Homo sapiens: one gene and its partners. The protein of the gene in region 1 purifies or fractionates together with the protein of each later gene. This does not show direct contact. Each region holds a gene or a part of one and is shown in the gene's direction. Other genes may lie near its edges.

What was found.
Region 2: the proteins of RXYLT1 (region 1) and CLTCL1 purify together in Homo sapiens (affinity purification with mass spectrometry; 2 studies listed by BioGRID and IntAct, with this or other methods). This does not show direct contact.
Region 3: the proteins of RXYLT1 (region 1) and RMND1 purify together in Homo sapiens (affinity purification with mass spectrometry; 2 studies listed by BioGRID and IntAct, with this or other methods). This does not show direct contact.
Region 4: the proteins of RXYLT1 (region 1) and ATP2B2 purify together in Homo sapiens (affinity purification with mass spectrometry; 2 studies listed by BioGRID and IntAct, with this or other methods). This does not show direct contact.

Annotation. Positions count from the first base shown.
Region 1 is NC_000012.12:63,782,887-63,789,924, forward strand, and holds part of RXYLT1 (ribitol-5-phosphate xylosyltransferase 1), read left to right. Parts: intron 1-2,083; coding exon 2,084-2,186; intron 2,187-7,001; coding exon of another isoform or gene 7,002-7,038. UniProt on the Homo sapiens protein: Acts as a UDP-D-xylose:ribitol-5-phosphate beta1,4-xylosyltransferase, which catalyzes the transfer of UDP-D-xylose to ribitol 5-phosphate (Rbo5P) to form the Xylbeta1-4Rbo5P linkage on O-mannosyl glycan.
Region 2 is NC_000022.11:19,232,696-19,239,733, reverse strand, and holds part of CLTCL1 (clathrin heavy chain 2), read left to right. Parts: intron 1-345; coding exon 346-459; intron 460-3,864; coding exon 3,865-4,038; intron 4,039-5,027; coding exon 5,028-5,225; intron 5,226-6,111; coding exon 6,112-6,312; intron 6,313-6,415; coding exon 6,416-6,568; intron 6,569-7,038. UniProt on the Homo sapiens protein: Clathrin is the major protein of the polyhedral coat of coated pits and vesicles. Two different adapter protein complexes link the clathrin lattice either to the plasma membrane or to the trans-Golgi network.
Region 3 is NC_000006.12:151,404,239-151,407,141, reverse strand, and holds the end of RMND1 (required for meiotic nuclear division protein 1 homolog), read left to right. Parts: intron 1-1,305; coding exon 1,306-1,422; intron 1,423-1,874; coding exon 1,875-1,907; 3' UTR 1,908-2,380; downstream 2,381-2,903. UniProt on the Homo sapiens protein: Required for mitochondrial translation, possibly by coordinating the assembly or maintenance of the mitochondrial ribosome.
Region 4 is NC_000003.12:10,334,585-10,341,622, reverse strand, and holds part of ATP2B2 (plasma membrane calcium-transporting ATPase 2), read left to right. Parts: intron 1-918; coding exon 919-1,130; intron 1,131-1,273; coding exon 1,274-1,381; intron 1,382-3,264; coding exon 3,265-3,447; intron 3,448-5,322; coding exon of another isoform or gene 5,323-5,494; intron 5,495-7,038. UniProt on the Homo sapiens protein: ATP-driven Ca(2+) ion pump involved in the maintenance of basal intracellular Ca(2+) levels in specialized cells of cerebellar circuit and vestibular and cochlear systems.

The DNA of each region.
Region 1 (7,038 bases):
TTTCCCAAATCATCAAATTCTGGTTCCCTTTTGCTTAACAGTTTTTCCTTCTATCTCTTTTTTCTTATATTTCACTAATCACCAAGAAACCAGTCCACACCTTTCACTTTGCTTGGAACCCTCCAGCTAATTATTAAAGTTTATCACAAGTTCTGCTTTCCATGTAACTGCAGGATACAATCCAACTAAGCTTTTTACTGTTATATAACAAGGATCCTCATCCTTCCAGTTTCTAATAACACATTCCTGATTTTCTTCTGAGCCCTCACCAGCAATTTCTTTAATACGCATATTCTAGGCATGGCGTCTCACGCCCGTAATCCCAGCACTTTGGGAGGCTGAGGCCGGTGGATCACTTGAGGCCAGGAGTTCAAGACCAGCCTGGCCATCATGGTGAAACCCCGTCTGTACCAAAAATACAAAAATTAGCCAGACATTGTGGCACGTGCCTGTAATCCCAGCTACTCAGGAGGCTGAGGCAGGAGAATTGCTTGAACCCGGGAGGTGGAGGTTGCAGTGAGCCGAGATCATGCCACCTTACTCCAGCCTGGGCGACAGAGCGAGACTCTGTCTCAAAAAAAAAAAACATTGCATATTCTTACCAACAATCTGCTTGTGATCATTTAGATATCCTCTAAGACAATACAGGTTTTCTCTACTCTACCTCACTTTCTTGAGTCTTCACTAGCTGAGTCATTAACATCCATATTTCTATCTGCAGGTTATTCAAGGCAATCTAATCTAGGCTTTTTAAAATCATGTCCTCACAGTTCTCTCAGCCTTTCCCCATTACCCAATTTCAGAGACACTTCCACATTTTTAAGTATTTGTTACAGTAGCACCTCATTTCCAGGTACCATAATCTTAACTGTATAATCCATAGCATCCTATTGCAGCCATAACAAATTACCACAAATGCAGTATCCTACCTTTCTGAAGGCAGAACTCTAAAATGTGTGGGGTCTGTGTTACTTTTTGAGGCTCTAGAGGAGAACCTGTTTCCTTACCGTTTAGAGTTTCTAGCGGCTACCCGTATTCCTTCATTTATGGCCCCACATCACTCTGACCTCTGCTTCTATCTTTATATATCCCTTGCCTCACTCTGACACTCCTGCCTCCCTTGTGTGAGGACTCTTGAGATTACATAGGGCCCACCTAGATAATCTATAATAATCTCTTCACCTCAGCATCCTTAACTTAATCATATTTTTAAAGTGTCTTTTGCCATGTAAGGTAACATATTCATAGATTCTAAAGATTAGAATATGGACATCTTTGCTGGTGGGGCAGAGGGACATTATTCAACCCATCACATTTGGAAAGCGTTATCTAATTGGCCACATTTTAAACGTGGTGGCTTGCGTTTCCTTTAGTACCAGGGTACAATGAGAATGGAACAAAAACCTCTTTGAGTGTAACCAAAACAGGGTGCCCAGAGGTGGTGTATGGTCTCCATAGTGCCTCATTGAGTAACACTGCTCTCCTCTACTCTCAGAGCTTTCATTCAGGTGAAATCATGATAAAACATCAGGGGCTGCCATAAGGAGAAAAGATGCAATGACATTTGTCTGTGAGGGGATCATGCATTCAGGGATATGTGTTCAAGTGAGGAGGAGGTAATATCCCCTTGACATATTGAATGTATTAATATATGTACATACATGAGCTCCTCTGGCTCCATTTGGCACAAAATGGCAACTCCCCCAATCTGTTATAAAAGCAGTTCTAACCACATAGTATAGTTTACTTTGTAATATAATACATTTCATTTCAGAATAAGACAGGTGGTAAAGATCCATATAAATTAGGGGTTTCTCAAATCTAGAGTAGGAGAGGTCTTTAATATTAACTCACATTTTGCCACATTTTACACACTAACAGCTTCTGAGCTCTGTCTCTCATTAGCTGCCATGTTGATGATTTGGAGCTGTTGCTTGATAGCACTGCCTGCCAACGGCCCAAAGGAGAGGCATTCTGGTTTTATAGTCAAATGAGTAAAAGAACAGAACGTAAACTTGTCTCATGCACTAAAGTAGATGAGACAGTAAATTGTTTTGATTTTGTTTTTGTTGTTAATTACCAGGCTTGTATCTCTGGGAGCATATTTTTGAAGGCTTACTTGATCCCAGCGATGTGACTGCTCAATGGAGAGAAGGAAAGTCAATCGTAGGAAGAACACAGTACAGGTATTGGTTGTATTAGTTGTGCAACATTAACCTTTGATGTTTTGCTCTGCAATATTTTCTGTAAATACTAAAAGAAAAATAATAGGAAAATATATTTATAAAAATACTTCTATTTCAACTTGTAAAGAATAGAGAAGTAAATCTCATGAATATGTATTCATAATTAAGCTTACTTGGACCTTATGAAATTGTATATTACAGAATACTCCTTTTTGGCATCATATGTCTGTTTTATTTTTACCTAATTATATAGAAAAGTTCATACTCCACATCTTACAGCGTTTGAATGGTGACAGCCATTGAAAACATTCTGTATCTTGGAGGAATAATATGTAAACCTAAAAGTATTTTCATTTTTCTCTTTCATGTAATAGTCATGTTCACTTTTTAAAATATTTAGGTGATATCAAAGCTCTTGCTGTCACTTTGTAGATTTTTGTTTATTAAAACAAATTTGATGAGTTCTATCAGGATTTATTTTTTATTTTAGATTTAATAAAGCCAATGTATTGCTTAGACTTTTTTGGCCTTTTTATATAACTCTTTTCTATGACTGCATATTTTCTGAGTGTTTTTAAGTATATTAGGATTATTTTATTTAGGAAAACTATAATTTTATCATATGAAATGCTATTTTATTAGATTTTGCTTTATTGAAATTAAAAATAAAAACATTATTTTTAAATGCTTATTTTATATAACAGTTGTATTATTGGGGGAAAATGTGAACTAAAGATTCTGCTTTGTATTGGAATTTCAGTCTTTTCTACAGAAATCAGGAAAGGAAAAGCTATAGTTAACCTCAATTTTGTTCTAATTTTTACTACAGCTTTAATTCTTTATTTACTTTATATACACTTGGAAAGCAGTTTTATTGCATGTATCTTTTCAAAGTTAAAAAGTAAACAGGTTTTTAAAATTATCATTGGTAATGATTATTTTTCCTTTCATCTTCATGCTTCTGTTGATCTAATCCCATTCAAGAGCTTAAATAGACTTACAATGGTTGGATTTGGGTGTGTGAAAGTAAATGTGTATTATGTGTATAAATCTAATATTTTGGTATTTGAAAAGTAAATGTGTGTTAGGAATATTAGTCTAATCCATAATATATAAAATTTTCAGAAAAGTTATTAAAAATTCATAAAGTTAGCATCTTTAAGGTTAAAATTATACATTGTTACTATAATAATAGTGAAAGATTTGAGCAAAGAACATTAACTCCCAAAAGAAAGCCAAATGTATCCTTTACTTCTGAAATATTTGTGGGAGATTTTACAGGCATCCTCTAGAGATACTGCGTGTTCAGTTCCACACCACTGCAGTCAAGCAAATACTGCAATAAAGCAAGTCATATGAATTTTTTTATTATCCAGTACATATGAAAGTTATGTTTACACTGTACTACAGTCTATTAAGTGTGTAATAGTATTATGCCTAAAAAAAAAAAATACGTACCTTAAGTGAAAAATACTTTATTGCTAAAAAATGCTAACAGTTATCTGACCCATCAGCAAGTCATCTTTTTGCTGGTGGAGGGTCTTGCCTCGATGTTGATGTCTAATCAGTGTATTGATGACTAATCAGGGTGGTGGTTGCTGAAGGCTGGGGTGGCTGTGACAATTTCTTAAAATAAGACAACAATGAAGTTTGCCACATCAGTTGACTCTTCCTTCACAAAAGTTTTCTCTGTAGCACATGATGCTATTTGGTGGCATTTTTACCCATAGAACTTCTTTCAAAATTGGAGTCAATCCTAGGCCGGATGCAGTGGCTCATGCCTGTAATCCCAGTACTTTGGGAGGCTGAGGTAGCTGGATCACTTGAGGTCAGGAGTTCGAGACCAACCTGGCTATCATCGTGAAACCCCGTCTCTACTAAAGATACAAAAATTGGCTGCAAGTGGCAGCACACACCTGTAATCCCAGCTACTTGGGAGGCTGAGGCAAAAGAATCCTTGAACCTGGGAGTCAGAGGATGCAGTGAGGTAAGATCATGCCACTGCCCTCCAACCCCGGGCGACAGAATGAGTCAAAGAAAAAAAAAAATTGGAGCCAGTCCTCTCAAACCCTACTGCTGCTTTATCAACTACATTTTTGGAATATTCTGAATCCTTTATTGTCACTTCACCAATGTTCACAACATTGTATCTTCACCAGAAGTAGATTCCATCTCAGGAAACCACTTTCTCTGCTCATTCATAAAAAGCAACTCCTCATCTGTTGAAGTTTTATCATGAGATTGAAGCAATTCAGTCACACCTTCAGGTTCCACTTCTAATTCTACTTTTCTTTCCATTTCTACCACATCTTCAGTGACTTCCTCCACTTAAATCTCGAACCCCTCAAAGTCATCCATGAGGGTTTAAATCAGCTTCTTCCAAATTCCTTTTAATGTTGATGTTTTGACCTCGTCCCATGAATCATGAATGTTCATGGTATCTAGAATAATGAATCATCTCCAGAAGGTTTTCATTTACTTTGCCCAGATCCATCAGAGGAACCACTGTCTGTGGCAGCTATAGCCTTATGAAAAGTATTTCTTTTGTTGTTGTTGTTTGTTGTTTTTTTTTTGAGACAGAGTCTTGTTCTGTCATCCAGGCTGGAGGGCAGTAGCGTAATCTCAGCTTCCTGCAACTTGCGCCCCTGGGTTCAAGTGATTCTCGTGCTTCAACATCCCAAGTAGCTGGGACTATGGGCATACGCCACCACACCCAGCTAATTTTTGTATTTTTAGTGGAGATGGGGTTTCACCATGTTGGCCAGGTCTCCTGTCTCGGACTCCTGTCCCCAAGTGATCCACCCGCTTCAGCCTCCCAAAGTGCTAGGATTACGGGCGTGAGCCATCGTGTCTGGCCAAAAAGTATTTCTTAAATAAGACTTGAAAGTCAAAATTACTCCTTGATCCATGGGCTGCAGAATAGATATTTTGTTAGCAGGTATGAGGACATGAATCTCCTGTACATCTCCATCAGATCTCTTGGGTGACCAGGTGCATTGTCAATGAGCAGTAATATTTTGAAAGGAATCCTTTTTTCTGAGCAGTACTTCTCAATAGTAAGCTTAAAATATTCAGTAAACCATGCTGTGAACAGATGTTGCTGTCATCTAGGCTTTTTTCCATTTATAGGGCACAGGCAGAGTAGATTTAGGATAGTTTTAAAGGTCCTAGGATTTTCAGAATGATAAATGAGCATTGGCTTCAACTTAAAGTCACCCAGCTACATTTAGTCCCTGATAAGAGAATCAGCCTGTCCTTTGAAGCTTTGAAGCCAGGCATTGACTTCTCTCTAGCTATGAAAGTCCTAGATGTCATCTTCTGCTGATATAAAGCTGTTTCATCTGCATTGAAAATCTGTTGTCTAGTGTAGCCACCTTCATCAATGATCTTAGCTAAATCTTCTGGATAACTTGATGCAGCTTCTACATTAGTACTTGCTGCTTCACCTTGCATTTTTATGTTATGGAGATGGCTTCTTTCCTTAAACCTCATGAATCAACCTCTGGCAACGTCAGACTTTTCTCCTGCAGCTTCCTCACCTTTCTCAACCTTCATAGAATTGAAAAGAGTGGAGGCCTTGCTCTGGATTAGGCTTTGGCTTAAGGGAATGTTGTGGCTGGTTTGATCCTCTATCCAGACTATTAAACCTTTCTCCATATGAGCAATAAGACTATTTCACCTTCACATCATTCATGTTGTTCACTGGAGTAGCACTTTTCATTTCCTTCAAGAACTTTTCCTTTGCATTCCCACCTTGACTGTTTGGCATAAGAGGCCTAGCTTTTAGCTTGCCTCAGCTTTTGACATGCCTTCCTCACTAAGCTTAACTATTTCTAGCTTTTGGTTGCAAGCTTCTCCAACCCACCTTATTTTATTGTTGTTGTTCTGTTTTGTTTTGTCTTAGGCTTTTAGCAGCCTGAAGCCATGGCTTTTAGTTTCTGTCTTTAGTAATAAGCAGAAAAGAGGGATAAGGAAGGGGTTTTACTGGCCCAACCAGAAACAGAAACTAAGAATCCATGCCTATATTCTCTCCCTTGGACACTCCTGAAAGTGAGAGACTTGCGACTCTTCCTTTCACCTAGAGGGCATTCATTATAGGGTTATTAATTATAGGGAACACTTAGAGGGCATTATAGGGTTAATAATTGGCCTAATAGTGTTGTGTCTCAGGGAATAGGGAGGCCCAAGGAGATGGGGAGAAATGGGGGAATACTGGTTGGTGGAGCAGTTAGACCACACACATAGCATTTATCTATTAAGTTTGCCATCAGATCTTGTGAGACTTATTCACTATCATGAGAACAGTACAAGAAAGACCTGCCCCCATGATTCAATTACTTCCCACCGGGCACCTCCCACAACATGTGGGAATTGTGGGAGCTACAGTTCAAGATGAGATTTGGGTGGGGACACAGCCAAACCATATCACCATCTCATAGTGAGCACATGCTGTTGGAAAATGGTACCAATAGAATTGCTTGACTGGGGATCACCACAAACTTTCAATTTGTAAAAAACTCTTTATTTGCAAAGTACAATAAAGTGAAGCACAATAAAATGAGGTGTGCTGGTATTATGGCCAAAGAGTAATACCGTTTCCTCTTAGGATTTAAGAGAACTATATTCAAGAAAGGTCACCATTGTATGAGATTTTTTTTAAACAGCTTATTAAAGTGTTAGGTTCATGAAAAGTAGCGTACATAATTTATCCAAAATTAATAAACTTTTATGCAATTGTAAGTCTTCAGTTGAAACAACTACATGGGTACTAACTTAAGTGTTTCCACACATTCACCATCCTTGTTTGACCAAAAGTGAATCAGAAGTAACGGCTCACCTTGAAGATATTGGA
Region 2 (7,038 bases), on another chromosome or scaffold:
AGAAAGGCAGAGAGCAGAGTTGGAAGGGACAGCAGATTCTGACTGGAGCCCTTTGTTTCATCGGCATCCAGGCCCGGGGAGGGGAAGTGACTCTGCCACTGTGCTGGAACTGAGGCTCCAGGCTGCCTGGCATTGGCCCTTTGTGCCATGCTTGGTGGTGGGCAGCAGGTTATTGGATAATCACAGGCACTCCGACAAGGGGGTTGTTCTGCTTTGGTTGAATGTGACTTTTAGCGTTAATCATCCAGTGTGTGGAGCTGAGGCTCCACTTGCCTCTGTGCCTTGACTAGCACTTGCCCACCACCACAGGCGGTCCCCTTGATTGACCTAAAATCTCTCTTCTAGTTGCACATCATTGAAGTTGGACAGCCTGCAGCGGGAAACCAACCTTTTGTAAAGAAAGCAGTAGATGTGTTTTTTCCTCCAGAGGCACAGAATGATTTTCCAGTGGCTATGCAGGTACGAATGTGCTGCTCTCTAAACATCTTCATGTCCTAAAATCTACTCTAGCACCTCCCAAGATACAGGAGGCTGCCATTTTTAGTCTGCTTCTGCTGTCTCCTGCCACTGTGATGCTTTCAAACCCATTTAGAGGCCTAAGGCTTTGGCGTGTGAGCTGGGAAAGCCCTGTTCGTAGAAAGGAATGCCCGGCATGAGGGTGAGTTAGGGCAGCAGGAAGACGTTGCCAAGTCACACATCAAAGTCCTCAGCTCTTTCCTTCTTATTATAAAAGATTAGATGTTCACTGTGGTATGAGAATATTTAAAGAATAAAATACCTAATGTAGGTGACGGGTTAATGGGTGCAACAAACCACCAGGGCACGTGTATACCTGTGTAACAAAACTGCACGTTCTGCACATGTAACCCAGAACTTATAATAATAAAAAAAAGAATAAAACACTTATTTCCTTTACAATTGGCTGCCATTGAGGGAGCCTAGAGCTCCCAGGGACAGTCCTTTGAGCTGGCATTCAGAATGGCCCAGCCTTTGACACGCAGCCTCTAGTGAAACTAGGTAGTCCCAAGCCCCTGGTGGGAGAATTATTCACCTTTACATCAAGAAGGTTGGGAAAACACCTGAACCTGCATGTGGCATGTGCCTAGCCAGACTTCGAGGAGTTCGTGCTATGAGACCTGAAGTTCTTGTGAGGTTCCCTAAAACAGAAACACATGTCAGCAGGGCCTGTGGTGGTTCCGTGTGTGCTAAGTGTGTTCGTGACAGGATCAAGTGTGCTTTCCTTATTGAGGAGCAGAATATTGTTGTGGAAGTGTCAAAGGCACAGAGTCAGAAAACATTCCTCTGTAGATAAACCAGTTGGATGTAAAATATATAAGAAATCTTGGCCGGGCGCGTTGGCTCACACCTGTCATCTTAGCACTTTGGGAGGCCGAGGCGGGCAGATTGCCTGAGCTCAGGAGTTCGACGCCAGCCTGGGCAACATGGTGAAACCCCGTCTCTACTAAAATATAAAAAATTAACTGGGCATGGCGGTGTGCACCTGTAGTCCCAGCTACATGGGATGCTGAGGCAGGAGAATTTCTAGAACCCAGGAGGCAGAGAGTGCAGTGAGGCAAGATCACACCACTGCATGCCACTGCACCGCGGCCTGGAGCAAGACTTCATTTCCAAAAAATAAATAAATAAATAAATAAGAATAAAAATAAAAAATCTTACAATTTGTTTTATAAAAAATTTAGATCTATACCTTTTCTGAACAAAATTGGCATCACATTATATATGTAAGATTATATAATCTACTCTCCTTTTTACTCTTTTGTTCTCATAAAATATATGTTATCTGTACATTTCTAATAATATCAATAAATGTAACAGCAGGATTAAATATCACCTGAAATCCTAGCACTGCTGATAATTTGGCTACCCCTTTGGAAGTAACTTAACATGCATACATTTGTGCAGATTTATACAGATGGACTCTTATGAAAATGGCTCTGCACTAGCCTTGCTGCTGTATAAACTCCTCTAGCTATGTTGTAGATCATTCTGTTCCAGTAACATAATGTATGTATTTTATTGTCTGTGTCATCTGTTCTGTGGATTTGCTACAACTCATTTAAACAATCCCCTGTTGATTGGTATTTACATTTACAAGAAACACTATAAGGAACATTGTGCTCCATACATCTTTGTATGTTAGTCTAAAAGTCCGAGGATAAATTCCTAGAAATTAAACTGCTGGGTCAGGGGCACACTCTCATCACAGACTCTCCTGACCATGCTGGCCAGTTCACATTCCTACTGATGCTGCCGGTGGTAGCTGGACAGCATCCCATGTTGTGATGTCTTTCCCTTGGTTACCATCAAGGCAGAATTGATGTATCAGCCACTCATATGTATCCGGTTAATTGCCTTTTCCTAATCTTTGCATTTTTTTTCTATTGGGATCTTTTTTTAAAAAGTAGAGATGGGGTCTTGCTATGTTGCCTAGGCCAGTCTTGAACTCCTGGCCTCGAGCGATCTTCCTGCCTCAGCCTCCCAAGCAGCTGGGGTTACAGGTGTGTGTCACTGTGCCCAACTCCAGGATTTTTACCTTATTCGTAAGAGCTTTTTGTACTTGTAGAGTACTAAGTGTCTGATGTATTTTGAATATTTTTCCCAGTCGTAATTTGTGATATGTGGCACCTTATGGAAGTGCTGCATTTTTGTGTGGCAGTGGTATCATGTTTTGAGACTAATTCTGCACCTGAAGATGATCACAACATTTACCTATATTTTCTTTCATTCCTATCCTAATTGTCCTTGTTTTTTATTTAAAATCTTTGACCCATCTGGAATTTACTTTGATCTAAAGAGTAAGATAGAAATTCAGTTCTTTACTCTTACCTCCATCTCCAGATAGCTAGCTAACTATATTAATAATATATGTTATATATTGATTAAAGTGCCTATTTTCCACTAATATGTTACCTACTAATTATTTATTTTTCTAGAGTTGGAGTCTTGCTACGTTGCCCAGGTTTGACTCAAACTCCTGGGCTCAAGTGATCCTCCTGCCTTGGCTTCCCAAGTAGCTGGGACTATAGTCATTAGCCACCACACACTCATTCTTAATAAATTCTCATATATGATTCATTCTCTTTCAGGGCTCTTAATTATTTTCTCTCTCTGTCTCTTCCAGTGGTAAAATCATACTTCAAAAATTACTGTCTGTTTTAATATATATGTTTAATAATCTGGTTGGGCAAATGCATCTGTTTTTTCTCCCCAGCCCCTTCAGGTTTTCTTGTGTGTTAAATATTTTTCTGTAAAAGTTAATAGCATTTGGCAAAACTCAAAGGTTAATAAGTGGTGGTAGAAGGCATGCTGGAACATCATCTTGGCGTTTGAGGTCTTTGTCCAGAACTTTCCCCTTCTCTTATGAACTCACAGCTTGCTTAAAGGGGTTCGATAAACTGTGAAAGGATCGCTCTACCTGAAAGATAAATGGAGTAGCCTGAGTTTATTGGACCTTTATTTGAGAGTGGTTGGACAAAATATTGTCTTTAAAACTAATTCTCAATCAAGTACAACTTAGAATCCATGTCTCAGGAAAGCATTGCTCCCACCAGTAATCTCTCGGCCTGAGAAACTGAAGAATCCTTGTATAGCTAGGTGTGGCAGCTCACACTTGTAGTCCCAGCTACATTGGAGGCTGAGATGGGAGGATCACCTGAGCCCAGAGGTCGGAAGTTGCAGTGAGCTATGGTGGCACCACTACACTCCAGCCTGGGTGACAGAGCACGACCCTATCTCAAAAAACAAACAAACAAACAAGAATCCTCTTTATCATTTGTGAGCTCTTTTTACCCGCATGGCTTCTCCTCCTTACTTTCCAACCTCTTGCTCTCTGTCTTCTTATAGATTGGAGCTAAACATGGTGTTATTTACTTGATCACAAAGTATGGCTATCTTCATCTGTACGACCTAGAGTCTGGCGTGTGCATCTGCATGAACCGTATTAGTGCTGACACAATATTTGTCACTGCTCCACACAAACCAACCTCTGGAATTATTGGTGTCAACAAAAAGGGACAGGTGTGTAACTCTGACATTTCATTTTCTACCTTTTCCATTCATTAGGGACTGGCGTTTAAACTTTCCCCCTTCTCTAGGAAAGCAGCTGGGTGTAGCTATTAATAGTTCCTGTTATTAAACTTAAACCCATGTCTCCTCCTTCATATTGACACTTCCTCTCTTCAGACAGCACCATTCCTAACACAGGATTGATTCCAGGAGGAGAGCAGCTCCTTCCTGCGTATAGAACAGCAGTTCTGATGCACATCATCTTTATACCATGCACACCCTAACTGGGGAGGGTTGAAAAAGCAGATACTATGGTATTTAAGTAACTTTTCTCAACCATAGTTGAAAAAGATAGTTAAAAGAAGAAACTCTTGGCTGGGCACAATAGTTTATGCCTGTAATCCCAACTGCATGGGAGGTTGAGGCAGGAGGATGGCTTGAGCCCAGGAGTTTGAGGCTGCAGTGAGCTGTGATCACACCATTGCACTCCAGCCTGGGTGAAACAGTGAGAGCCTGTCTCAGGGGAAAAAAAAAAAAAAGTCGGGAACAGTGGCTGATTCCTATAATCCCAGCACTTTGGAAGGCTGAGACAGGAGGATTGCTTGAGGCTAGGAGTTTGAATCCAGCCTGAGCGACATAGTAAGACCCTGTCTCTACAAAAATATTTTTTAAAAAAGAAAGAAACTCTGTACTTTAAAAATAAAAAGTTTAAGAAGAAAAATTGTCAGTTCCATCCACATAGGTCATTTTGCTGTAGCGCAGAACGCATCACACTTATCTGTGTGACTTTAATAACTACATAGACTCCTATGCTGTTCTGTTTTGTTACCATTTGGCTTTCGGCTGCTTTGCCTCCTTTCACTGTGAGGGCCACCATCACAGGTGTGCTCAACACTCGCCTGAGAATGTGGCTACCACTCCAGCATCGGAAGGGAACATGGCAGAGGGATGGTGGAGCACTCTTCTAGGCCGGGCTGCTCTCACTTGTTGTGTCCTTACAGGTACTGTCAGTTTGTGTTGAGGAAGATAACATTGTGAATTATGCAACCAACGTGCTTCAGAATCCAGACCTTGGTCTGCGTTTGGCCGTTCGTAGTAACCTGGCTGGGGCAGAGAAGTTGTTTGTGAGAAAATTCAATACCCTCTTTGCACAGGGCAGCTATGCTGAAGCCGCCAAAGTTGCAGCGTCTGCACCAAAGGTGATAAACCTTGAATACTGTTCAAGTGTTCTGAGTGTTAAGAACCAACCTTGAGAGGAAAATAAGTCATAAAAGCATTTCACTAGTGATATTGCAGTCTATTAGTGTTATGTTAGGAGTTTTTAGTTTAAAATTTTTGCACCAATGGCATAACAGTAAAGGAAGTAAACAAAAAACACACTCTTGCTGCATCGGCACTTCTTCACGCCTCCCACTTTGTGTGCATACGTACCTCTCACCCAACAGCTTAGATACAGTTTCACATTTCTGTAACTTAGCATTTTCCACTCTTGCTACCTGGTTGTCAAATATGCAACTGTACAATACATCAAGTGGTTGTTCCCTGTTTTATCTAGCGATAGTCCTACCCTGGACTTTCTCCACTCTTTTAGAATATAGCATTTCGGCATATGGCTTTTTCTTGGGTTTATTTCATTTGGATAAATTGTTCAGAGACTGGATCTGTTCCTGAGTAGATAAAGACTTTCAAGTTGCTTGTCCTTGAAAGAATTTTTCTTGTCTTTCAAGGGGTAGTTGTGAACAAACCATTTCTAGCCTTCATCTGTGAATTTGAGTATTTTGAATTAGAATATAATGATAGCAGAACTTCACTACTACAAGACTGATTGAGAGGCCGAATTCTTACTGCAGCATGCTGGGGGAGAAGTAAGACCCTAAGTGTGAAGCCACCTGGAGGACCTAGATTCCCCTATACTTATGGTTATTGTTGAAGATAGAAGCAGTTGCCTTGGTAGAGGACTTTTTGTCTATGACAGAGCAGTGTGGAATTTCCACTGGCAGATTTTTGTTTTTACATACAAGGAAGTTGAGTGAAGGGATCCCCTGTGATTACAACACAATGACCTATTTTTCCATTTATTATTAGGGAATCCTGCGTACCAGAGAGACGGTCCAGAAATTCCAGAGTATACCCGCTCAGTCTGGCCAGGCTTCTCCATTGCTGCAGTACTTCGGAATCCTGCTCGACCAGGGTCAGCTCAATAAACTTGAATCCTTAGAACTTTGCCATCTGGTTCTTCAGCAGGGGCGTAAGCAACTCCTAGAGAAGTGGCTGAAAGAAGATAAGGTAGAAACACTTGTGAGCTCGTAGCCCCCCCGCACAGCTTGAAAACTTGGTCCAGGCTCCCTACCTGCCTCCTAACTTTGCCTTGTCCCTTGGCATACCACAGCTGGAGTGCTCAGAGGAGCTCGGAGACTTGGTCAAAACCACTGACCCCATGCTCGCTCTGAGTGTGTACCTTCGGGCAAATGTGCCAAGCAAAGTGATCCAGTGTTTTGCAGAAACAGGCCAATTCCAGAAAATTGTGCTCTATGCCAAAAAGGTAACGTGTGTTGAACCACTGGCATCTCACAGATTACTCACGTGTGGTTGAGTGGTTGCTGATTTTAAAGTTTATAAAATACCCTTCTTTGTAAGTCCTCTGGTGTGAGAGTTGGCAATGTTGCTGTTAGGATCTTTATTCATAATGATCATATTTTATTCTCTTCAGCTTTTTATTATCCTTAGTTTTCCAGTCCTTCCATCTTCGTTTTATTTGGGAGCTTTATCTTGTTTTTTCTCTCCCTCTCTTCCTTCTGTATGTTAATTTGATATTTTGGCAGACTCCCAGATCTTATCCCTGTGTGCTTACTGGCAGGCTGTGTTTGCACACAGATCAGGAAACTTCTTTGTGGTCTGGGCTCTTTGTATAGTTAATTGTGCCTTCCATGTACATTAAATCAATTCATTTAATTGGATATTGTGTTTGGCAGAAGGTGGTACCTACACATGATAATGTTGCTGCTCATTTCT
Region 3 (2,903 bases), on another chromosome or scaffold:
CACTTTGGCACCCAGGCTGGAGTGCAGTGGCATGATCTTGGCTCATTGCAGCCTTGACCACCTGAGCTCAAGCAATCCTCCCACCTCATCCCTGCCAAGTAGCTAGAACTACAGGCACACACCACCATGCCTGGCTAATTTTTTTGTAGAGACAGGGTTTCACTGTGTTGCCCAGGCTGGTCTCCAACTCCTGAGCTCAAGTGCGCCTCCTGCCTCAGCCTCCCAAAATGCTAGGATTACAGGCATAAGCCACCGAGCCCAGCCTAGTAAGGCAGTTTAATGCTATGTGCAAAAATCGTAACATGGTGCAGTTAACGCATTCCAATCAACCCCTGAACACGTACCTGTGATTCATCTCTTAATGTTCACTGACCAAACCTGTAACTTCAGCATACCCATGAGACAAACTGTTTTAAAATTTTGCTTTCAGGATTTCCAGTAGCAAGTGATATATAAAGATATTAGGTAGGTATTTAACAGTTATCACATCCAGGCCTGGCACGGTGGCTCACGCCTGTAATCCCAGCACTTTGGGAGGCCGAGGCGGGCGGATCACAAGGTCAGGAGATCGAGACCATCCTGGCTAACATCATCTCTACTAAAAATACAAAAATTAGCCGGGCGTGGTGGCGGGCACCTGTAGTCCCAGCTATTTGGGAGGCTGAGGCAGGAGAATGGCGTGATCCCAGGAGGCAGAGCTTGCAGTGAGCCGAGATCCGCCATTACACTCCGGCCTGGGCGACAGAGGGAGACTCCATCCCAAAAAACAACAACAACAACAAAAAAAAAAGTTGTCACATCCAAATTTTGAATTCAGGGACTTTATTTTCTTTGAACCCCCACAGCCAGCTTGTTTGGAGGCATCGGAATGCAGAACTGTTGCAGTTCAGTTGAAAGCAATGCCATCTAGTGGTGTGTGTACAGCAGGTCAAATGTTAAGCGTAGATTTTCTAGTAGAAAGTAAATTATCTTTAGGTCTTGCTAAAAAACATTATGTTTCAAGTTTGCCTCTTTTAACTGCTAAAAAGGGCAGCTACTAAAAACTAGGACTCAAAAACCTATTTTTAGTTCTTCCATCAAAATCTTACAAATAGAAGAGCTTCAGTATGCAAAGTATTTCTTGCAGTTAAATTTGTACATTACAAAATGTCTCTGGACGGATTCACAAGAAACTGATAATGTTGGTGGCTGCCTTTGGGGAGAGGACTGAGGAGCAGGATTTTTCACTGTATAGCTATAGAATTTTTATGTGTATGACCGTATTAAATTGTTTAAATACATGTTACTGAAATTTTTCTTACATAGGTCATGAATGAAAAACTTCAGCACTGCATGGAACTAACAGATCTAATGCGGAATCACCTGAATGAGAAGAGGGCACTCCGCTTGGAGTGGATGATTGTCATCCTCATTACCATAGAGGTAAGATGGAAATGCTCTGTACTATGATCAGTTACCATCTTTTCACAAATACAGGGGCTATGCTAATAAGATAGTTTGAGATAGAAAATTATTAGCAGAAAAGAGGCTGACTTTGTTATCATTACTAACTCTATTTGGAAGTTTCAAATTACTATTTGCAAATGCATTAAAAGTAATTCTTGAAAAGGTTCCACTTTTTAAAATTTGAGAGTAGACCTCAAGGTTCTGCTTTTAAAGACAGCATTTGGAAAAAGTTCTAGCTGTAAATTTATAATGTACAGCTCAACATCAAATCAAGCACCCGTACCTCCAATTCATAGGTTGCCACGTGAGAAAGGGCAAACATTTACCTTACTTCAGGAGCATTTCTCATTAATCACAATCTTGGAAGTCATTTTAGTTTGTACCCATAATTTGCCCGTCATGAAATAATTCTCACTTTCTATTCTAAGGTAATGTTTGAGCTGGGACGAGTATTTTTCTGATCAAGTGATAACCAAAGTGTCACTGCAAGAGATATTCAAGTTCTACAATCAAAAATTAAATGTTCGGCCCGGCGCGGTGCCTCATGCCTGTAATCCCAGCACTTTCGGAGGCCAAGAAGGGTGGCTTGAGATGAGATCAGGAGCTCAAGACAAGCCTGGCCAACATGGTGAAACCCCATCTCTACTAAAAATACCAAAATTAGCCAGGTGTGTTGGCACACGCCCGTCATCTCAGCTACTCAGGAGGCTGAGGCAGGAGAATCTCTTGAACTTGGGAGGCGGAGGTTGCAGTGAGCTAAGATCACACCACTGCACTCCAGCCAGGGCAACAGTGAGACTCAGTCTCAAAAATAAACAATAAAATAAATAAATAAATGTTCACTACTGGGTGATCATTTAATAGGTGTTTTTTTAATCAAGAAATTATCTTTTTCAGCCCAGTATATCGTGTGAATAAAATTATGAAGAATCTAGTGTTTGTATCTACATCACTGACAATTCAAAAGGTAAATATTTCAGTTAAGAACTTTGGAAAACTAGCATCTAGGAAATCTTGGCAAATCTTGGCAGATACTTCTTAAAGTCACAGGACTTAGGTTTTAGACACCACAACTTAACCTATCCCCAGGGAATCCCATCATGGCCCTGGCTAAGAGAATCATACAGGAACTGAAGTGTTTAAATCAATATATACAGGCCGGGCGCGGTGGCTCACGCCTGTAATCCCACTTTGGGAGGCCGAGGCGAGTGGATCACAAGGTCAGGAGATCGAGACCATCCTGGCTAACATTACACGGTGAAATCCCGTCTCTACTAAAAATACAAAAAATTAGCTGGGTGTGGTGGCAGGCGCCTGCAGTCCCAGCTACTCAGGAGGCTGAGGCAGGAGAATGGCATGAACCCGGGAGGCGGAGCTTGCAGTGAGCTGAGATCATGCCACTGCACTCCAGCCTGGGCATCAGAGAAAGACTCCCGTCTCAAAAAAAAAAAAAAAAA
Region 4 (7,038 bases), on another chromosome or scaffold:
GACACAGGACTTGGCCAGGTGCAGTGGCTCATGCCTGTAATCCCAGCACTTTGGGAGGCCGAGGCGGGTGGATCACTTGAGGTCAGGAATTCGAGACCAGCATGGCCAACATGGAGAAACCCCATCTCTACTAAAAATACAAAAATTAGCCGGGCGTGATGGTGCGCACCTGTAATCCCAGCTACTTGAGAGGCTAAAGCAGGAGAATCACTTGAACCCAGGAGGCGGGTGTTGCAGTGAGCTGAGATCACGCCACTGTCCTCCAGCCTGGGCAACAACGAGACTCCATCTCAAAAACAAAACAAAACAAAACAAAAAGGATACAGGACTGCATCAGACACCCTATCAGCAGCGTCTACACAGCAGTGCCCTGCCATGTGACAGCTCAGGTGTTAGAATGAAGCCACATGGGAGGGTCCAGAGCCAGCCTAGCCCAGAAGTCCTGGGCTCCATATAGGAATTGGCATCTCTAGTAACAGCCCCATGAGCTTGTAGAGGTCTCAGCAAGGGACATGCTCAGGAACAAGAAGCAGCACTCTCGGGGCAGCGCAAAACCTCCCGCAGGTATCCTGTCCTCGCAGTCCAGAATGAGTTTTCCAGTCTGAGGTCACTTTTTAGAAGCCATGTCGCCCACCTTTAACACAGCCGGCCGTCCACCTTTATCGGGTTTCCACAGAAAAAGTGGAAGACAGTTGCCCAAGGCCTTTCTTCCCCAGAGGAGAAAGGGCTTTGCTGACCCTTCAGTCCTAGTCTCTGACCAGCTGACAGCACAGCCCTGGCCCCCCACTGTCCAAGCATGCCTTGATGTCTTGGGGATTCACGTCACTGCTCAGAAGAGGCCCCCACGAAAGGCCAGGCATCTCCCCTCTGATTCCCCCACCACTGCCTTCAGCCCAGCCCCACTCTCTCACTTGGCAGGCGAGAAGATGTTCCAGATCGACAGCGGGAGGAACGCGCCCCTGCATTCGCCACCCTCAGAACATTACACCATCATCTTCAACACCTTCGTCATGATGCAGCTCTTCAACGAGATCAACGCCCGCAAGATCCACGGCGAGCGCAATGTCTTTGACGGCATCTTCCGGAACCCCATCTTCTGCACCATCGTGCTGGGCACCTTTGCCATCCAGGTAGTGAGGCCCCCACCCTAACCAGGCCCGGGGTGGGCAGCAAGCGGCTGGAGCCCCTGGGCAGGACCCTGAGAGCCCAGCCCTCTGTGCTGGTCCCTGATGGCCTCTCTCTCTCTCTTTCTCTGCTCCCCTGTGACCTCCAGATAGTGATCGTGCAGTTTGGAGGGAAGCCATTCAGCTGCTCTCCACTGCAGCTGGACCAGTGGATGTGGTGCATATTCATTGGGTTAGGAGAGCTCGTTTGGGGCCAGGTAAGTTCCTGGTAGGTCGCAGGAGGTGCCTGTTAGCAGGGCAAGGGAGACAGCACTGGATGGAGAATCCAGGACCCCCAGGAATGGGCTGCCAGACCCCAGGCAAGCTCCTCCCTATCTCTGGACATCTGAGCAAGGGGGTTTGTCCCAGGTCCTATACTGGTCGTCTGGGTACTACTGCTCTGATTTTTGCCTTATATCTATCTACCACTGCTCCTGTTGTTTATGTAATATTTTCTCTCAATCACGTCAGCTTTTTTAACTTAAATTTGTTTTTAAAGGCAACGTCCTGTTACTAAGACAACTGAAAAATCAGTATCACTTGTCATAAATGGAAGCTAACAAAAACATTAATGTAATGAGAATGACATTATTAAACTCCAGCTAGAAGCCATGGCCTGCCAGGGATTCAAGGCTGGAGCAGCTTGTTAGGAAGGGAGATGAATCAGTGGTCTGCGGGCGCTGGTGGCCGGCTGGCGTCAATCAGGATCCTTTAGAGCACTCAGAGGGAACGCAAGCAGGACACACTCTGCCACATTGCGGTGTTACTCAGTGCTGTGCCTGTGGCCATCTGTGGCCTCAGTGCTGTGCCTGCCCCAGCTCTGGGGCTCCTTGGGCTGGATGCTCTTTAGGGGCCCTTCCAGCTTTGTCCCAGAATATTCTCCCACCAATTCGTTTTTCTACGTTTGCCCAAGTTCCAGACCCTGTCACAGCTCTGAGAGCATGCAGCCCAAAGGCTCCTGACCCAGGACACAGGGCTTGGGAGGAGGGCCCAGAACCAACTCAGGGCCTAAGGGGCCTGATTCCCAAGGTGCTCACACATCCAGGCAGTGGGACCCCATGGGTGGGAGGCATTTTTCTTGCCTTCAAGCTGTCTGCAGGCTAGAGTGAGAAGCTACGGGGGCAAAAATTAACTAAAAGATAAATAAGAAAGTTTAGTTTCATCCAAAAGGACTTCCTGTAACCTTTGGGGCTGCTTTGGAGAGTGATAAACCCCTGGGCACCCTGGGGGCCAGGCCATCTTTATCCCACTGGGGCCCACCCCCTACAGGAGGCTCTTGGGGGCTGGGCCCAGTAACTGAGGGAAGGATTCAGAGGACAAAGGTTAATGCCAGCGGGCAGTGCTGACTTTACACTCCCAGGGAGCCCCCTGAGGCTGCATTCATGCCAGCGCCTGACTGCTCCTACAGGAAATGGAAGGGGCCTCTGATATCTGCCACCGCAGCTTTCCTGTAGGGCCTGCGTCTGGGTCCTCAGCCCCATGGACAAGCCTTTTGGGGAAGATTAGGAATGAAGGCATAGCTCTTTCCCATTCTGCCTTCCCAGTCCAGGATTGGCTGCCTTCAGGGTCCAGTGACCTCAGGAGGAATAAGGGACAGAGGAATAAGTAACCCCAGGAGAACCGAGGGCCAGCCACGGGCCAGGCTCATGCAGGACGAGTTAGACCCTCCACCGTGCCCAGTTCTCACCATGCCCAGAGCGGCCCCCACTTTACAGCTAGGAAAACCAAAGCTCGGTGAGGTTAAATGACTTGCCCGAGGCCACAGGACCAGGGTTGTCTGGGGTATTCAAAGCCACATCTGTCCAACTCCTAGAGGCCAAGATTGTCCACTATGTACCCTGACTCTGAATGAATGAATTAAAAAGCAAATTGCACTCCAGCCTGGGCAACAAGAGTGAAACTCCATCTCAAAAAAAAAAAAAAAAAAAAAAAAGACATTGTCAAAGACTGGGCTGAGGAACAGGTGAGGTGGGTGAAGGAGTAGATTGATCACATGCCTGGGTGAGCGGGTAGGAGGAGGGAGGTAGAGGAGCGGGTGTCAGGGAGAGAAGGCCACTGGGAAGGACAGCCCCACCGTCCTGACAGACAGGGTCCCTTGCAGGTCATCGCCACCATCCCGACCAGCAGACTCAAGTTCCTCAAGGAGGCAGGCAGGCTCACACAGAAGGAGGAGATCCCGGAGGAGGAGCTCAACGAGGACGTGGAGGAGATCGACCACGCGGAGCGGGAGCTGCGGCGGGGCCAGATCCTGTGGTTCCGAGGCCTGAATCGGATCCAGACACAGGTACAGGAGGCTCTTGGGGGCTGGGCCCAGGCCTGGCCGGGGCGGGCCAGGGGATGGAGGTGAGTGTGCTTGTGCTGCCCCCCAGGGCCCAGCTCTGGTGCTGAGGGAGGGTGGCTACAGAGGGGTCCCGGCCAGCTCTCACCAGCCACTTGCACACCCACTCCTGTGGCTGCTAAGGAACAGCACGGCCTCCTCAGAGAGGTCCCATTGTGCCCTCTCAGGGCAGCACGGGGAAGTGGTAGGGGTCACACCCACCATGGTCTCCAGGGGGATTTCCCTGAGAGGGTGGGGAAGGGTGGCTCTGAGGGCAGAGGTGAGTGAGGGGACTGTCGCTCAGGGCTGGGGGCACCCACCCACAGGGGCCGTGTGAGGCTGGACAGAAGCTGCAGGCCAGGTCGCCCAGGGTCCCCCAGGGCGTGGTGGTCAGGGGGTCCGCCGCCTCCACGGGGGCTTCAGTTGCTCTCCCCAGCTTCCCCTAGGGGGTGGAGAGGCTCTGGGGAGCAAAGGTCAGTCATCCTCAAGCACACACAGACACACATGCACACACCAAGCACACCAGGGGAGCACAGGTGCAGGGCGTAGCCAGCCAGAAGCAGGTTTCTTCCCCAGAGCAGAGAGAGCATGGCTGCCACGTGGCACACGACACACCTGCGCGCCTCCCCCGACCCCCCCACACACATACCACATGCTCTCACATGGTCCCCTTATGCCTGGAGCAGGTGTTGTAGCTCACAAGTGCTGTCACAGCCCTGCGAGGGGAGGGTCAGAAGGGACTCTGTGGGTCTCTTGCCCAGACCATCTGGGGAGCTGGAGTGGGAGCTCCTCCATGCCCCAGCATGCTTGGGCGAAGTGCAGTGTAGAAGCAGCCACCTGGCCACCATCCTGCCAGCTGTGGCCCAGCACCTCATTTCCATCCGATGTAGCAGAGAGCTCACCTGGGTCACCTCCCACCCCTCTGTACCCTGTCCCAAACCTCACCTCATGTGACCTTCACAGCCCTGGGAGGTAGATGTGACTCCCCCAGTTTTAGAGGTTACCAAGGTCCAGGAGATGGCCCCTTCTACTGAGCTGGCACAGCTGGGGTGGGGACTGGAAGCCGGTTTCAGACCCGGAGGTGCCTGACACGGGCCTGGGCTCACCCTCCCTGGTTAGGGCCCCGCAGCCACCCCTCCCAGCCTGCCCCCACCTCCTGGGAGGTCCAGGACAACTCAGTGAATATGTCCCTGGTGCTGTCACTGCCCTGGCGGCAAAGCCACGCAGGGGTCTCCAGATTACGGGAGGAAGCAAGGACTGCGATTTCTTGAGTGGGCAGGGGCGCCTGTCTTGCCTGCCTCTTGCGGAATGCTAACACGGGTCAGGTGCTTTGCCACTTACAGATAACCCTGCCAGGCAGGTGGCATTGACCCTTCTTAAGAACAAGAAACTCGACTCAGAGAGGTGGCTTGCCCAAGGTCAGCTAGCTAGTAAGTGACAGAGCTGGAATTTAGGCCAAGCTCTGTCCACCTCAGGACCCCCACCACACCCTCTACCTCCACGCCTGTACCTGAGGGAGGCTGAACACTGCTCTCTTCCCTCCAGATACCATGTTTAATCACTGCCTCCCCCACTGGCCAGCCCACTGGCCCCTGAGCCACTAGCACAGGACAAAGGCCGGACCCCCTGTGTCCTCCCGGGGACCCTGGGGCCTGCAGGTGGGCCCAGAGCTGAGCAGACGTTTTTCAGAGCCTTGGAGTGTGTCTGGTATTTTTGTTTTGATTTAAGTGACATTGTCGTTGTTGCCGTGGCTGCGGCTGTTCTTGTGACGTTGCCCTGTCAGTCATGTAGCCGTTGTGCTCGTTCTTCTCGCAACTTGTCTCGTTCTCTCCTCCGTTGCAGATTGAAGTAGTCAATACTTTCAAGAGCGGGGCCTCCTTTCAGGGGGCCCTGCGGAGACAGTCCTCGGTCACCAGCCAGAGCCAGGATGTAGCCAATCTCTCTAGCCCTAGTCGCGTGTCGTTGTCCAATGCTCTTTCCTCTCCGACCAGCCTTCCTCCTGCTGCAGCCGGGCGTGAGTGTGACTCCTTACTGCCTCCGGCTGGCACTGCCCACGCCAGCTCCCAGGCGGGCAGGGGCTGGGGCACCAGAGGACATGGGGGGCAGCCGGTCACAATCAGGCCCAGGGGGATGAAGGGTCCCAGCCACCGAAGAGGGTCCCGTTGGTCAGGAGAGCGTAGCCAGTCATGCGGTGGCAGTCACTCAGTGGACCAGGGTCAGTCAGAGGGTCATTAGGGTCCCAAGTGGCCAAAAAGTCTGGTTCAGTCAAGGGGTCACCCTTGGTCAAGAGGACATCAGTGACCAAATGGTCCCAACCCACCACAGGGTCCCGGCAGCCAGAGGGGGACAGACATGGAGGGGACACAGAGTGTCCCACTGGCCTAGGGTCATATGTGGTCAGGAAAAGCCTGGACCACCAAGGCAAGGGTTGGAGTTGGACAAGAGGTCCCAGTCTTGCAGTCAAAGTCAGCAGAAGGGTCACTGTGGGTCAAGGGGAGCAAGCCCCTTAGGGTCCCAGTCAGTCACATTGGGATCCACCCAGGAGAGGGTCACGTCAACCAGACTTTCCCAGTTGGTCAGGGGGCACCCACAGTAATGAGGGTCATGGTCAAGGGGGACAGTTGAGCCAAGAGGTCACTGCAGGTCAGAGGTCATAGTCAGCCAGGGATCCCCAGGCCACCTAGGAGCTCACAGCCTAGACGCTGCACCCCAGCAGTTCAGAGTCTCTGCCCGCTTCCTGTCACTCCTCCCCTTGCACTTTTGACTGCATCAGCTGCCCTGCAGACACCTTTCCCTGTGGCTGAGCTTGGAACTTGCTGAAGTTCTAAGCCCTTCCTGGAAAGGACAAGGTCCCTGGCCCATTCAGCTTGACCCCTGGTAGAAAATGGTGGGTCGAGCCTCACATCTTGCCTGGGTGCCAGCAGGCCCAGAGGGACCTGATATGCCCTTCAGCATCCTGCCCTCCTTTATCTGAGAGATAGCCTGGGACTGTGGCCCCTCCTTCATCTCCCTCCTGCCAAGCTCATCTCCTCATGCCACCACTTCTGATCTAGATCACTCATTGCTGGCTTTGTCTAGCTCTTTCCCGGACCCATGGCTTCGGGCCCCATAGGGAACAAGTCTGTCTTTCCTCCCATCGCCCTGCTATGTTTCCAGTCAGGCGCTTCTGATCTGCAGGGGAGCCCCTGGTTCTGGTCTTCTCCAATTGGCATAGTGTCAGTCTTAGCCTCCAGCTTCTTTGATGAGAAGTAGACTCCAGCTCACCCCTTGAAACTTTATAAAGGGCCTCTACCCCCATCCAAAACCAGAACACCCACAACACAACCCCTGCAGCCAAGCAGGTAACCCGGTGTGCTGGTGGGAGCGCCTCCCTCAGTGCCTCCAGTAGGAGGCGCGGGCCACAGGGAGCCTGTTGATGGCAAATGTCCACGACCCATAGCGGCAGGACAGAAGCAGAAAGCAGGGAAGGAGCCTCTCAGTGCTCATTCGTCAGCACAGAAACGCAGTGCTGGGGAGGACCGGGGAGCCAAGATGAAATGGAGATGCATTTCAGCAGAT